Homo sapiens: one gene and its partner. The protein of the gene in region 2 interacts with the protein of the main gene of each other region in a pairwise test. Each region holds a gene or a part of one and is shown on either strand. Other genes may lie near its edges.

Region 1 (6,911 bases), on a different chromosome or scaffold from region 2:
ATGGTTCCAGTTTTGATTTCTCCAGCATCAGACTTTACAGCTTAAAAATATTCTCAGTGCTGTAAAGGGAGCTCATTCCCATATTCACCAGGGATGGGGTGGGGTGGGGAAAAGGAGAGAGAGGTGCCTGCCACTTGAGGGGAGCTTGGACACCCCCAGTAAAGATCCCTCTTTGCAGAGAGAGCCTCGCCTGCCTCAGTCTGTTATGAGTCTCATGGCAGAGGGGTGGGTGGATAAGAATAGGAGGGAGGGTCTGCTGGGCTTGAATCAGTCTGGCTATTGGACAGGAGCCCTTCACATGTCTTCAATCTGTGGCCAAGTGAAGGCAAGATTTGGAGAAAGCCAACACTCTGGCCTTGATTTTCCCCATCAGTGAAATGGAGCTTGTGAAGGATCCAATGGAAAAACCCAAAGAACATTCTGAAAGAATGATGCTCTGTGCCTGTGGCATTAGAGAAAAACAAGATTGTGTGGGAGGAAGGGACATGTTCTCCCTCCTGAAGGCAGGTTTCTAAGGGCCACACATTCTGGGCAATGAGAAGGCTGCAGGCCGACCCCACCAGTTGGCCCCTCTCCAGGCTGGTGGGCAGGCAGCTACTGCCGCACTAAGTAATGAGCACAATTCCAACACCGCTTCTGCTCGCTGGTGAGAAATCAAAGCCGGGTATTAGAGGCCATTTCTGACTGGGCACCATTCGTGCCCAAATCCATCAAAGCCCTGGGCCTGGGGTTTCTTCTGGGGAAGGTGGGGGCTGGATGCTTTGTTAAGCAGGAAATGCAGGCCACCCCCAGCCTTCTTGGCCAAGCCCACCCACCCAGAGAACTATAGGCCAACCAGTCTTGTCTTTCTCCTACAGCAGCCCCTCATTCCTGGTAACCTAAGTATTTATTCCTGATCCCACTGTCCTGCTGGTACAAAAGCAGCTTCCCAAGACACAACCCTGCCCATGTGCCATTTACAGAGACTTCACCCTACCCTTCAATCATCTCCTCAAACCCCCTCCAACCAGAAACCAGCACCCCAACCAAGCACCTCCCACGTCTAACTGCACCCTTTAAAACAAGGTTGGACATTCAGCAGCCTGCCTTCCCCATCCCCATCATTACCTTCCAACTTCAAAACACTGCTTTAAATACCAGAGTCTGCCCAAATCATAATTAACTTGGATCAAATGGTTGAGTGTTGTAACTCTACTGCACAGGACTTGCACCAGAAAAAAAAAAAAAAGTGGGGAATGTGCTAAAGCCAAGCCCTCACTCCTGGCCGTGGGAATCACTAATTCCAGAATGAGGAATCTTTGGCTATGGAGGGGGGAAGGGCGGATGTCAACTTCGCAGCAGGAGGTAGGAGGTGGGGAGGGCTGCGTCATCTCGTCCACTTTCTGCTCCAGTTTTCCTGCTCCATTCTCAGCCTCAACTCAGAGAGGACTCCGTGCAGGAGGCCCCGTCCCCACCTGGCTCCGGAGCCGAGCCGCCCGGCAGCCGTGGCCAGCCCACTTGCTTGGGTTCGGGTACCAGAGAGAGGCTGGCTCCATTCAGTCCACAGCCTCCCCGAGAAGACGCAGCCCAGCCAGCGACGCCGGGTCCAGCTACAGGACGAGCGAGAAACGTATTCATCCACGGCGAGAGAGGAGGGTTAGGGACTTTATTTCGGAGCCCACCAGTTCGCTGAAGTCATCTTGGTGGGTCCAGAGCGGGCGCTGTACCAAGGAGAGCGCACCTAGTCTGTTCCCCGGACAGCGAGAATGTCAGTGACCAATTTAAAAGGAAACTCCGCAGGATCGCTAAGAACCCCTACCCGCATCCAACACACACACACACACACACACACACACACACACTCTCCAACACTCAGAAAATTAATAATAATAATAATAATAATAATAATAATAATTCTTCCAGACCTGCGGGCCCAGCGATCTCGGGGAAAGCTATGTGTGCAAGACTTAGCCCTCCCCGCTTCAGGAGCCCTGCAAGCCGGCCTGCCGAGGCTACCGAAGCGCTTCCTGTGTTCAGCAGGTCTTTTCGCTCTCTCCCTCTAGTCTGCAGATTGCTGTCCCTATAGCGCGTAAGAGCCTAGGCGAGCCGGGACCAGACTAGTAAGTTACCGGCGTACGGCAGCGAGCGCACACCTTGCTTATGTAGCCAATGTTCTTTTTCGGGGCGGATGCCAGGCGCGCGGAGAGCCGGGCGTCCCCAGGAGGCGGATCCTCCCGGAGACTCAGACCCTGACTCCTACACCCCTTCCAGGGAGAAGAAGGGATCCCTTTCAGGAGCGAGCAGGGACCTTTCAGCTTACTGTGAAGCCCCTTCCCTGCTCCCCGCTCCCGCGATGTGGATGCGCCATTGCCCACTTTGGGAGGCAGTAAAATCTACATTCTAACTTGGGCGCCCTTGCCGCTTTTCCTGCGCGCATCGATGCGACGAAAGACCACCTCAACTTCAGGACAGAGTGAGGCGCAAGGGTCCCCTAGCCCCGCGCCCCCAGACCCGATCGCTTCCTACCTGCTTGGCTCAGCCTCGGGTCCCAGCAGAGCAGCAGTGCCAGCAGCAGCGCGCCCCGAGCTCCGCTCCGGGCCCCCATGCTCCCGCGGCCTGGTTCGGGCGCCTCTCCCCCAGGGCTGTCTCCCTGGCCCCAGTCTCGCCGCCGCCGTCTCCGCCGCCGCCGCCTCCTCCTCGCCGTCCTCCCCGGCGCCCGGCAGCGCCAGCCCGTGCCTTCCGTGGGGGCAGCGGAAGCCACGCTGCGCGGAGGGCCGCCTGGCACTCGGAGCGCGGTGGGTGCCTGGCGCCGGCTCTCGAACGAGGCTCCGGCGCGCCCCTCTGGCTCCGGGTCTCTGAGCGCTCGCCTGGCTCCGGCGCTGTGCCTCCGAAGTTGCGCGACCGCTCAGTGGCGCTCGCAGCGGCGGCGCCGCGCAGTCCCAGCCCCAGTGCGCGCCTCTCGGAGCCCCGCGGCTGCGTGCGGCTCCGGCGCCCTAGCCGGCCCCAGCCGCCTGCCACAATGCCGAGCGCCGCCGCTCGCTCGCCGGAGTGAGTTCGCCAACCGAGGGGACCGCGCGCGGCCGGGGCGGGGCCTGGGCGACCGAGGGCGGAGCCGACAGGGGGACCTTGAGGGGGGATCCGACGGCCATCTGGGCGCGGCCGCGGCAGAGCTGGGGGACCCGGGGGGAGGGTCCTCGCGAGACGCTGGGCGCAGCGTTTTGAAAAACCCGGCCGCTGGAGAATGGCTGGACGTGGAGGCGGCCCAATTTTCGCTCCCCCAAATTAAGGAAATCTGGCTTTGCGCCTTCATTTGGCTTGGCCATGTCAGCTTTCTCCTCTGATTAAACATAGGACTCTCACTTTTGGCTCCCCTGTCTGTAGTATGCGCTCTGCCTTCCACATGTGGGGGTCTTTCCAAAAAAAAGGCTCCCAAAATGAGAACACCCAAGTCCTGGTTACGCGGGGGCTTACAGCGATATGAAGCTGGGTATAGATTAGGATCATCCTGGCTGGCTCTGCTTGTCTGTATGATCTCCGGCAGAACTGTTAACCAGACCCCTGGAAACCCCTCCAGCACTCTGATCCTGCGTTGTTGTAAACTAGCCTCCTACCTGACAGTGGGACAGCCATTTTTGGCTCAGTGTAAACTTGGACTCTGCCCCTTATTTACTGTGTGACCTTGAACAAGTTACTTAACAATTCTATTGCTCCCTTCATCATCATCTGTAAAATGGAGGAAAAGGATAACTATTTCATAAGGGGGTATAGAATTAAATTTTAAAACTTGTGTGGAAATTGCAGTGCAAGTGTCAATAATCTCTTTCCAAGATTCTCCCCTCCCAGCCAGTCTGATTCCAGGGGGAAAGTCCTGACCACCCAAAGGTGGTCCAAGGAGCACGTGGGGACAGGTGAGGTTTGAAGGATGGGCAGTGTCTTGGGATTGAAACCCAGAGAGATCAGAACGAGCGGATCAGCTAACATAGGCAAAGACCTTCCCTGTGCCAGGCACAGGGCTAAGCACTCTGTATGCATCATGTCAGTTAATTCTCACAACCCTCTGAAGTAAGCACCATTTACATCCCATTTTACAGATGAAGGACCTGAGGCACAGAGGTGTAAAGCCACCTGCCGGAGATCACACTGCTTGGAGTGACTGAGTGACTGAGCAAAGGGGATGGGGGAGATGGGATTGGAAAGAAACCCTCTAAACGGGGGAGCCTCACTTGAACACCTTCCCTGGGGCTGGATTGGGCTGTGCGAAGGGGACTGTCCTAGCTGTTTCCCCAGAGGTGAGGTGAAGGCAGGACTAGTACCCTCTCCACACACACTCCCCTCACAAGCCGGGGTCTTGGAGTATCTAGGGGAGGTCGTGCATGCCATCAGCACATCTCCCTAACCCTCTCTGACTGGGCACCCAGCATCAGGAGGGTGGCAACAGGTGGACTGGGACTCCCTGGGGGAAGAACTTCCATCAATTGAGAAAGGCTGCTGTGGGCAAAGGTAGGTTGCTTAGCTTGGCCTCTGACAGCCCTAGCAAGGGCAGTGGATGAGACAGTCAACAGCTCAGCACACCCAAACCAACTCCACCTTGCAAATACACATGCACACACACAACTACCCACCCATACACACCTGCAAAGGTACACACACGAAAACATACAACAAAGACAACAGGTGCAATGTTTCACCTCCCATAAACATCACACCTACAAATAGGCACCCGACTCCAGAGACACCCACATACCAAAGATGTATGCCTAAAAAAAGCAAACACACAGGCGCACACAACTAAAAACACAAATAGGCAGATGACTCCCAAGACAAATAGATATTTGGATACTTAACTACTGCCAGGAAACACATACAGGCACGCCTGTGCCAAGACCCACATCTGACGGTCATCCCCTGGATGCAGGCACATGGTCAAGGTTGTGCCTGTGCTGGAGAGCTCAGCAGGGACCTCAGCAGAGACGGGCAGCATGCAGAGACCACAGCATGTTCTCTCTCTCTCCCCAACCTCTTTCTCTCTCTCCTTCAGGCCAGTGGGGTATTGGAGATTTTTCTAAAAAGTTCCACCCCTTGGAACTTTGCTGTTTAGGTGGTAAAGTGTACCCAGCAGGCCCTTCTAGTCCAAGTATCAGGTTTCACGGCTTTAATTCCTGGGTGGAGAGAAGGGGGACTGGAGATGGGGGCAAGCAAAAGGAAGACATTACCCCCTCTCCTGCCAGTCCCTGCCCCACTTCCCTTCTCAGCCTAACCACTCTCTCAACTCTTGAAATATACTCTTGGGAGGTCCCGGGCCCTGCTCTCCCTCCAGGACTCCAGCATCAGGGCATGGGATTTTGCATGTTGGGAATCTCTCTGTAACTGCTCTGTGCCCCTGCTCCTGTACCAAGTCTCTGAGCCTTCTCTAGCCACCTGCAGCTGAGCAGTTGCAGATGTGGTTCCTCTCCAGCCCTGGCATCTCAAGAGTGCAGGCTGTCAGTTGAGGCCAGGCAAGGGGCTTCAGAGGGAGTCAGACTCCCCCTGAGCCATACCTTTCCCCGGGATGGGTGAAGAATGGGCAGGGTCCCTGCCTGGGGGATGACACATTAGGATAGCAGGATTAAGATTTGCCAGGGTGTTCCCAAACCGAGTGCCATGGGCCTCACAGCAAAGGCATCCTGCTGGGAGTTAAGCATGAGGACGAAGCAGTGAGTTGCTTGAAGTCAGGTGCCCTGTGTTCCCTGTTCCCCATGATATATCTAGCACTGAAGACAGTTTCTGGCATAGCAGGGATGCAATCAACCTTGGTTGAGTGGGTACATCAATAAGGCTGGGGGGAAAGGGGTTGATGGTCAAAGGGCCTAAGAGTTGCTATGTGAGCCCCACCCTCCCCTCCCCTCTATTTCCTGGGGTCTGGGGGTTCTGAGGCTGAAAGTAGGGCAGGCTTTGTGGCATAGATCTGCTTTGAAATCAGTCCCAGAGCCAGTTCTCACCCTTGGTGGGGACTGCAGATGCTTCCAGCGGCTACCATCACTTGTCTCAAACCACAGGAGTGTGTAGGAAAGAGTTCTGGATCTGGAGGGCTGTGGCCCTAAACCTGGGGGCTGCTCTTACCTGCTGGCGGATCTTAAGCCAGTTACTGAAACTTTCCCAGCGTCAGTTTCCTCAACTGTAAAACAGGAATAATAATTACTTCACAGTATTAAGAAGAATAATAAGGCCAATAATCTGGCTGTATAAAAACCGCCTATTTGATAACAATTACGATTTAAAAGCAGCTGTAGGGGCTCCCGGCAGGAGTGGCTGCCGGCTTGGGGTTGACGCCTCCCGCTCCGTCGGGACCGTGTGCGCGAAGGTGCCACCAGGCGGCGCGCTGCCGCTTACGCCTCCCCGTGGCCGCCAGTCTCCCTCCTCCGGCGATGGGAGAATTGTCCTGGCCCCACCCCGCCTGGGGCCGCCCTGACAGAGTCCTTGTCCCGGGTTGTCAGGGGAAGTGGCACTCAGACGACTCCGTTTGCAGGATCTTGAGTGGGAAGGCTTGGGAATGAGTTCACGGTGCCTCCCCTGAGTCGTTCGGTCCAGAACGGACCCCAAAAACCTGGACCCTGGAGAAGGGAAGCGCCTAAAGCTGAAGTCCTTAACGCTTTACCATCTCTTTGTAATAATATTATCAGAGCTAAGGTTGAGTGCTTACTATATGCCAGGTACTATTCTAAATCTCTTCGGCCGGGCACAGTGGCTCCCGCCTGTAATGCCAGCACTTTGGGAGGCGGAGGCGGGCGGATCACTTGAGGTCAGGAGTTCAAGACCAGCCTGGCCAACATGGCGAAACCCCATCCCTACTAGCAATACAAAAATTAGCTAGACATGGTATCGTGCTCTGTTAATCCCAACTACTCGGGAGGCCGAGGCACGAGAATCGCTTGAACCCAGAAGGCAGAGGTTTT
Region 2 (7,021 bases):
TAAACAGTTTCGTAATATGCAACTCACCTTGATCCAGGGATGCTGCAAACTATCTTGAATTGTCATTCTCTTCCTTGAGGGGAGGGGGAGAAGAAAAAAAATGCTGTGACCATAGCAGCAAATACTAAGGTTGTTTTCATGCTGGCTGGGCCTGCCAAGCAGATACTGTGGAAAATGCAGTTCAGGGAAGAAAGCCAAAAACAACATCGGTCTTTTTGTGATTATTTCACTGTGCCTGCAGGGACTGACTGAGTGGGGGCAGAGGGCCCTGCTTGCATTTTCTGAAGCGTTTCACATGGCATGCTGCCCTTTGGCAGATGAAGCAAGCAGGGTCTGAGGAACGTGGCCCTGTGCATGGAACAGACACAGGCTCTGGGCTGGCTGAGGCCGTGGCCAAGCACCTTTCAGGAACGTGGACACTCACTTTGGATCCTTGACCAGAAGTCTTCTTATGAAATCTTTGGCTAGGGCACTGGTATTACTGAAGTATTCATCCTCAAATTCGTAGTTGACAGCGGATACATTTGCTAACGTTTCTTGCTTAGTGTCTCCAAGAAATGGGGAGGCCCCACTTAGGCTGTTAAAAATAAAGTTGGGCATAGAACATTAATGATGACCCCTTGGTGTTGTCATTTTGCTCCTATAACATCTGGAGTGTGGAATAAGATTATAATCTGGTGCTCGAATAGTCACAGTTTGATTATATTTCATAGGGCTTTAACTGTCAGGAGCAAATGCTTCAGCTTCAGGCAAAAGGATTCACTTAACAAGTTAATCTGGAACAGCGTCTGGTAGTTTAAAGGAAACCTGTTTTCTCGGCAGTGATGGACAGCTATGCTTTCTTTCAGTGATTATGCTACAGTTTCTGATGACTCATTTCAAATTAGGAGAACATGTTTAATTAGTATAAACTAAACATGTTTTGGGGGTGTAAAATGAATATGTTTGCATCAAAAGCATGCATAAGCTGAAGAGATCAACACAGCACATTTAATGGTTAATTAAACCTATGGTCTCATAGAAGAGAAGAGAGTATGAGTTGTGAATTCTGATACTTACAGGATATAGGTTATTACCCCGATACTCCTAAAAACAACACAAAACAAACAAAAAAACATGTCAGAAGAATAGTCAAATAAATCAGAAAGCAAACAACACCAAGGACATACTCCTTACCACATATCTGCCTCAAGACCAAGAGGTTCATAGTTGACTATCTCAGGAGCTAAGAGGAAACAAACACTCATTTAGCTTGGGAGGAAGCAAACTAACCGATTCTATCTTCATGCAACAACCAGGAACATGTAGCAGGGAAAGAATCTTCTAGCAGGGGAGGTTTGCCAGAATAATGTTTATGAGACGTAAATGACCACAGGAGCAAAGAAACTTACCGACAAACTCTGGAGTCCCAAATATGTTTTTAAATTCATTTCCAAAGTCAATTTTATGGGCCAACCCAAAGTCAATGATCTTGATCCGAGGTTTGGGGACATTTCTATCCAAAAGCATTATGTTCTCAGGCTTGAAAAAAAGAGAGAGATAAATAAAAAGCTATGATATGTTATGCTGAGGACAAGATGGCAGAATAGTTCTTCTCTCCAAAAAAAAAAAAAAGGCCAAAAAGTAGGGAAGAAAGGGTGGTTGGAAGAGAACAGCAGGAAAATACATGTCTTGCTCTAGGTTCTCCCTGAAGCAGGCCTGAGACAAGGATTCGGATGCAAGTGGGTTATGTGGGAGGGGACACCAGGAAACACTTGGTAGAGAAAGGAGATACAGGAAACAGAAGGAAGCTGCTACGAGGTGTCCTATCAAGTGGGGGTAACTGGGGGAATGGGAGAGGAAAAGGAGAACTCAGTGTTATTCCAATTGTAGCAGGAGGGAGCTGGGGTCTTTATCCACCATTTCTCCATCCTCCATGGCTGACAGTTGCTTCTGTGGACATTTTTCTTTTGCATTTCCAGCTCCCAGGGCCAGAAACAAGATGCCAGGAAGAGTCACAGGTATTTGCAACAAGCCCTCTGTTAGGATGTATATGAGTGTGTGCTTTTGCACATTGTTTGTGGGGCCAGCAGGGACATGAATGGGACATTGACAGCTCTGCTACAGAAGAATGGGGAAAATCCTCCCTCCTCTGAAATCCTATCCCAGCTCTACTGGTCTGAATCAACTACTCGGATGGAGCACGCGCTGCTTTACCAGACCACCTCTTCCTGCCTTGAACTGGAACTTCCCACCATTGCCACTTCCTATTGCTCCTGTCGTGTCTTCCCTTCCCAAAGAGACCACACCTCTGTCATGGCTGGGAGGACGGCTTACATGCCCTTTCATCTCCAACAGCGTCCTGCATCCAGCCAGGCAAATGCCCCAATTAGCCAATCTGAGTTTGGTTTGCTTGATTATTGGTGACAGAGTCAGGCCATACGCCTTTGCATCACTCAACACATTTTCTATCTTAACATGCCCAGAGCCACAGAAGGAACCAGTGCCAGTCACTAGCTGCTGGCTAGAGCAGCCCCCTTACTAAAAAACCTGGCTCCTAAGACCCCTTGTATTCTTTACCAAGAATTCCAGAATGTAATCAATTATCATTAAGCCTCTATCCCACAAAAAGGTTAGCCATCCCAGTGGGGGGCATGTATCCTATGCTTGCCGATTTATAGTGATATTTCTGTTTGTTAAACTGGTACAGGAAAATCATGTAACTCTTTCAGATGCCTCAATTTTTCTTAGCAGAGAAACAACCAAGGCTGTGATCTGCACAAGCTTCTATCTGGCTTACACTTTGAAACGTACCTTAAGATCAAAGTGGGCGATTTGAAGGGAGTGCAGGTAGTAAACACCATTAAGAATTTGTTTGAGAAATTCAGTTGCTTCCTCTTCAGTTAAAGATTCCTTTTCAGCTAAGAAGTCAAACAGCTCGCCACCTGCAACGCTGAGAACCCGGAAGCAGAGGTTATTGGTAACAACTCTGTTTCATATTGATTCCTTCTCTCATAGACTATTGGTGCGCTCAAACTTCAGACAAGAAAACAGCATAAAGACTATGCTGAAACCGCCAAGCATGGATTCAGAATTCTCTGTGCAGGTTGTTGACAATTCTGCATTCAGACACATTTGTGCTTGAAAGCACTTGGGAACCATTTTCCTAAGGTTCCGTGTTCACAAATGAGAGGAGGGGCAGAGATGAAATGCTGTGAAGAAAATATCAGTGTATCTTGAAAACATTTTAATTAAACATACTTAGAGGTGATGTCTTAACTCTAATGACGAGAAAAAAATCTGCAAGCCAGCTTTGTACAGAATTTATAGTGTATATCTTCTTATTTCAATTAGAGAGTACCTGAAAAGTTCATAACTTGCATGTTTAATTAATTCTTTAAAACTCAAATTCACAATATATGGTCTGATAAGGGTTTTTTCCTCTCTTGTCTAGTATTGGTTTGTATGTAAATACTAACACATTTATAAAAATCACATTTAGTAGCCTGGGCGCAATGGCTCACACCTGTAATCCCAGCACTTTGGGAGGCTGAGGCGGGCGGATCACAAGGTCAAGAGATCGAGACCATCCTGGCCAACATGGAGAAACACCGTCTCTACTAAAAATACAAAAAACAACTGGGCATGGTGACGTGTGCCTGTAGTCTCAGCTACTCGGGAGACTGAGGCAGGAGAATCACTTGAACCTGGGAGACGGAGGTGGCAGTGAGCCAAGATTGTGCCACTGCCCTTCAGCCTGGTGACAGAGCGAGACTGTCTCAAAAAAACAAAAAAAAAGAATACATTTACAAAAAAAGCAAAATGTATGTTGTTGGTTGCGGATTTTTTTAGTTTATTTCTCTGTCCAGACTGTAAGTGGGTGGAGGGGAGTGGTCAGAACCTCCCACCCCAGCTATTGGCTACTGCTGTATGCCCCACTCCCCGCCAGAGCCAGGCACACAGCATGCATTCAAAACTTTATCAGGTGGATGGACGAACAAGCTCCCCTAAAAACTCCACGATAGCGATGAATGGCAAATAACAGGGAAGTTTTAATAAGAGTTTTTATAAGTTAATCTTTATCAAGTTTAACCATATATTCACAACATAATAATTAAGTGCAATTATGCACAAACTGCTGTATTCATTATCTCTCTTAGGGCAAGAGCGCTCCCCAAACATTATACCTTCCACATCTACATCCATTCAGAGTAAGAAAATTGGTGCTCATAAGATCAGATAAGAATGACAAAAAAGCTGTTTTCTTAAAAGTTTCAGATCCCACATGCCTTCACCCTCCAGGTCAGTGTTTTCCTTAGCACGGTCTAGAGTCCATGGGTATCAGAATTATTTGAGGATGCTTTAAAAATGAAGATTCTGAGCCTCACTTTCAATCTGCTGTGTGAGGGCTTCCAAGAATGGTGACCAGAAAACTCAGCATCTTTAACAAGCACCTGAAAAACTGAGACCATTTTCCCACGTCTTAATTCCACGCTCCTGCTGCAGGGCCTCCCACTGGTTTACGGGGATGGTGGAGTGACTCTCCTATCCCCAGGGGCCTGGCAGAGGTAGCCACACCCTCCTGTGAGCAGTCCACAGGCCTCCCCTATCCTCCAGGGGACACAGCAGGGCCTGGGCCCAGCCAGGACATCCAGGAGTCCAAGCGAAAGGTGTCCTACATGGACCCTGCCTCAGCAGTGGCCTTGCTCTCCTCCTGACCCTTCCCTGCACTCCCCACCCTGCTCTTGGGAGATGCAGTCTGCCCCCACCCTCTCCCCTCCCAGGTGTCCTTGGCCTCACAGCCCCCACACTGTCTGCCCACGGAACAAGGCAAGGCCTCCCGCTTCTCACTTTTGCATCTTATTCTTAAAACAAACAACGGGGAGAGAAAATCCTTCAACTATAGGGGGGAAAAAGTGGGAGATTGTGAACCAACCTCACCCAAAGAAAGCTCTCCCATCACACCTGGGTCTCCAGCCCTGGCTTCTGTGCTCTCTGGGGCGCCCCGCACCACTGGGCTGACTCAGGCACCGTGGCCACGTGATGTGGAGAAGTCAAGTGCCTGCATCCAGTCCAAGTCTTAACTTCTGCCACGCGCTCACCCTGAAACCCGGAAGGTTACCCCTTCTCTTGAGCCTCATTTCCCCAAAGAGGAGTCATAAGACCTCTTCCCTTGAAGGTTATGAGGATGAAAGGTAATAGACATGTGTAACTGGCAAGGCTGGCACGTGGGTAAGGTCCAGCTTGCGGGAACGAGTGTTGTTATAAAGAAGGCCACTGTCACCCCTGTAGCATACCACTGCTTCCTACAGGATCCAATATGAAAGCCCCTTCCTGCCCGCTCCTCCTCCTAAAACTGGTCCATTGGTTGAGCCTAACCACTGTGCTTCCCAGGAAGAAGGTGAGGGGAAGGAACTGAAACTTCTGCTGTGAATGTGGTGCCCAGCCGCCGGCTTTCTCTCCGTGGCCCTCTTCAGGGCCTCCCGAGCCCACCTCACTCGCATTCTGCTTGTGTTGTCTTAGAGTACAGAGATGCATTTTTCAGACAATGAGAAACGTCAGGAGTTTGGCTGCCTGGTTGGGGTGAATCTTCCAGCACCCACACAGCTGGCGCAGTCTGCTGGCCCTGAGTCCTTTCCAGGGACTCCACTGTCCAGCCTTCTGGCAACCCCATGCTGCCCTGGCCTCAGGCTTTGCCCGCTCTTCTCTGGCCAGCTTTCTCTCCCTCCCTGCCAACCTAAGCTTTCTTCAGACCCAGGATCTCCTTCTCCTGCCAGCTCCGTCTTCTGTGAGGCAGGATGGCAAAAACGAGGGGACCATGGTTCAAATCCTGCCAGGGCCTCCAACCTTGCTGAGCCTCTGACTCCCCTTCTATAAAATAAAGGGTAACATCATAGCTTACGGAGTCATCCTGAGGTTCCAGGACATGTAGCGACCCTTAGTGCTCAATAAATGCTGCTGTCTTTCTTCCCATGTGGCTTCAAACCAGAAGTCCTCCCATGGCAGCAGGGGTGTGCAGCAGGTTCTTTGGCGTTGGGGTGGGTAGAGCCCATTCCCGAGGTGTCACATTCCCACCATGGCCATCTCAAACTCCCTCCCCACGTGATGTCAGGGACCGTGGGTGGAGTTGGGGAGGGACAGGCACTGCAGCGGTGACCTGGGTGAGCTGGGATTGACACGGCACTGCCGAGCAGCCACCTGGCCTGCCATGGTGTTCCACATTTTTCCGAAGACGGTCTGACAGCATCTCATCCTCATGCTCTTCTGCACCGTGATTGTGCCATCCTCCTTCAGGCAGTGGGCGGCATCTGTGGCTCCATCTCTTGAATCTGGGCAGGCCCCATGATCACTTTGACCAATGGCACAAGTGATTTTGCCAGCCCTGCTGTGGCTTTTCATGGACTGGGGGCCTCCAGGTCCCACCTCCTGAAGCCCTCAGGTAAGATGCAAGAAGTACGACGATGCCAAACCACTGTGCCACGTGGAGAAACCCAGGAAGAAGAGATGTCCTTGGAGAACAAGGCCAAGGAGCCTCGAGCAAGGAAGGCACCTTAGAAGGGGACCCTCCAGCGCAGCCGAGGCCACAGAGGTCAGAGACTGTCCATTCAGCAACTGATCAATGAGGGAACATAACAGGGCCTGCCAAACTTCCATCAAGGGCAGATCCTAAATATTTTAGGCTTTGCCAGCCTTGCAGTCTGTCCCAACTACTCAGCTCTGCTAATGTATCATGAAAGCAGCCACAGATGACATGTACATGATGGGTGTGGCTGTGTTCCAATAAAACTTTAGTTAAAAAATAGGTGGCAACCTGGGTTTGGCCTATAGGCCATAACTTGCTGATCCCTGATATAAAGACTAGGTCATCACAGCCCAACCTGGGGCAACTCTCAAGGGTCATTCTGGCCCCAGAACTCCCTGTTGGCCAACTGGGGCTGCCACTAAACCCATTCCTGCCCCCTTCTCCTCTTCTCCAAATCTTGATCCTAAGTATAGTTCTTAATAAACACCATGCACACTCTTCTCCATCTCAGAGTCTGCT

Evidence for each region. Proteins that work in one complex are often made in the same cells at the same time.
Region 1: the proteins of DAPK1 (region 2) and UNC5B interact in a two-hybrid assay, tested with the Homo sapiens proteins (one study listed by BioGRID).

Annotation. Positions count from the first base shown.
Region 1 is NC_000010.11:71,208,659-71,215,569, reverse strand, and holds the start of UNC5B (netrin receptor UNC5B isoform 1 precursor), read right to left. Parts: upstream 3,001-6,911; 5' UTR 2,585-3,000; coding exon 2,506-2,584; intron 1-2,505. UniProt on the Homo sapiens protein: Receptor for netrin required for axon guidance. Mediates axon repulsion of neuronal growth cones in the developing nervous system upon ligand binding.
Region 2 is NC_000009.12:87,633,854-87,640,874, reverse strand, and holds part of DAPK1 (death-associated protein kinase 1), read right to left. Parts: intron 2,933-7,021; coding exon 2,794-2,932; intron 1,522-2,793; coding exon 1,392-1,521; intron 1,226-1,391; coding exon 1,177-1,225; intron 1,087-1,176; coding exon 1,060-1,086; intron 578-1,059; coding exon 425-577; intron 74-424; coding exon 28-73; intron 1-27. UniProt on the Homo sapiens protein: Calcium/calmodulin-dependent serine/threonine kinase involved in multiple cellular signaling pathways that trigger cell survival, apoptosis, and autophagy.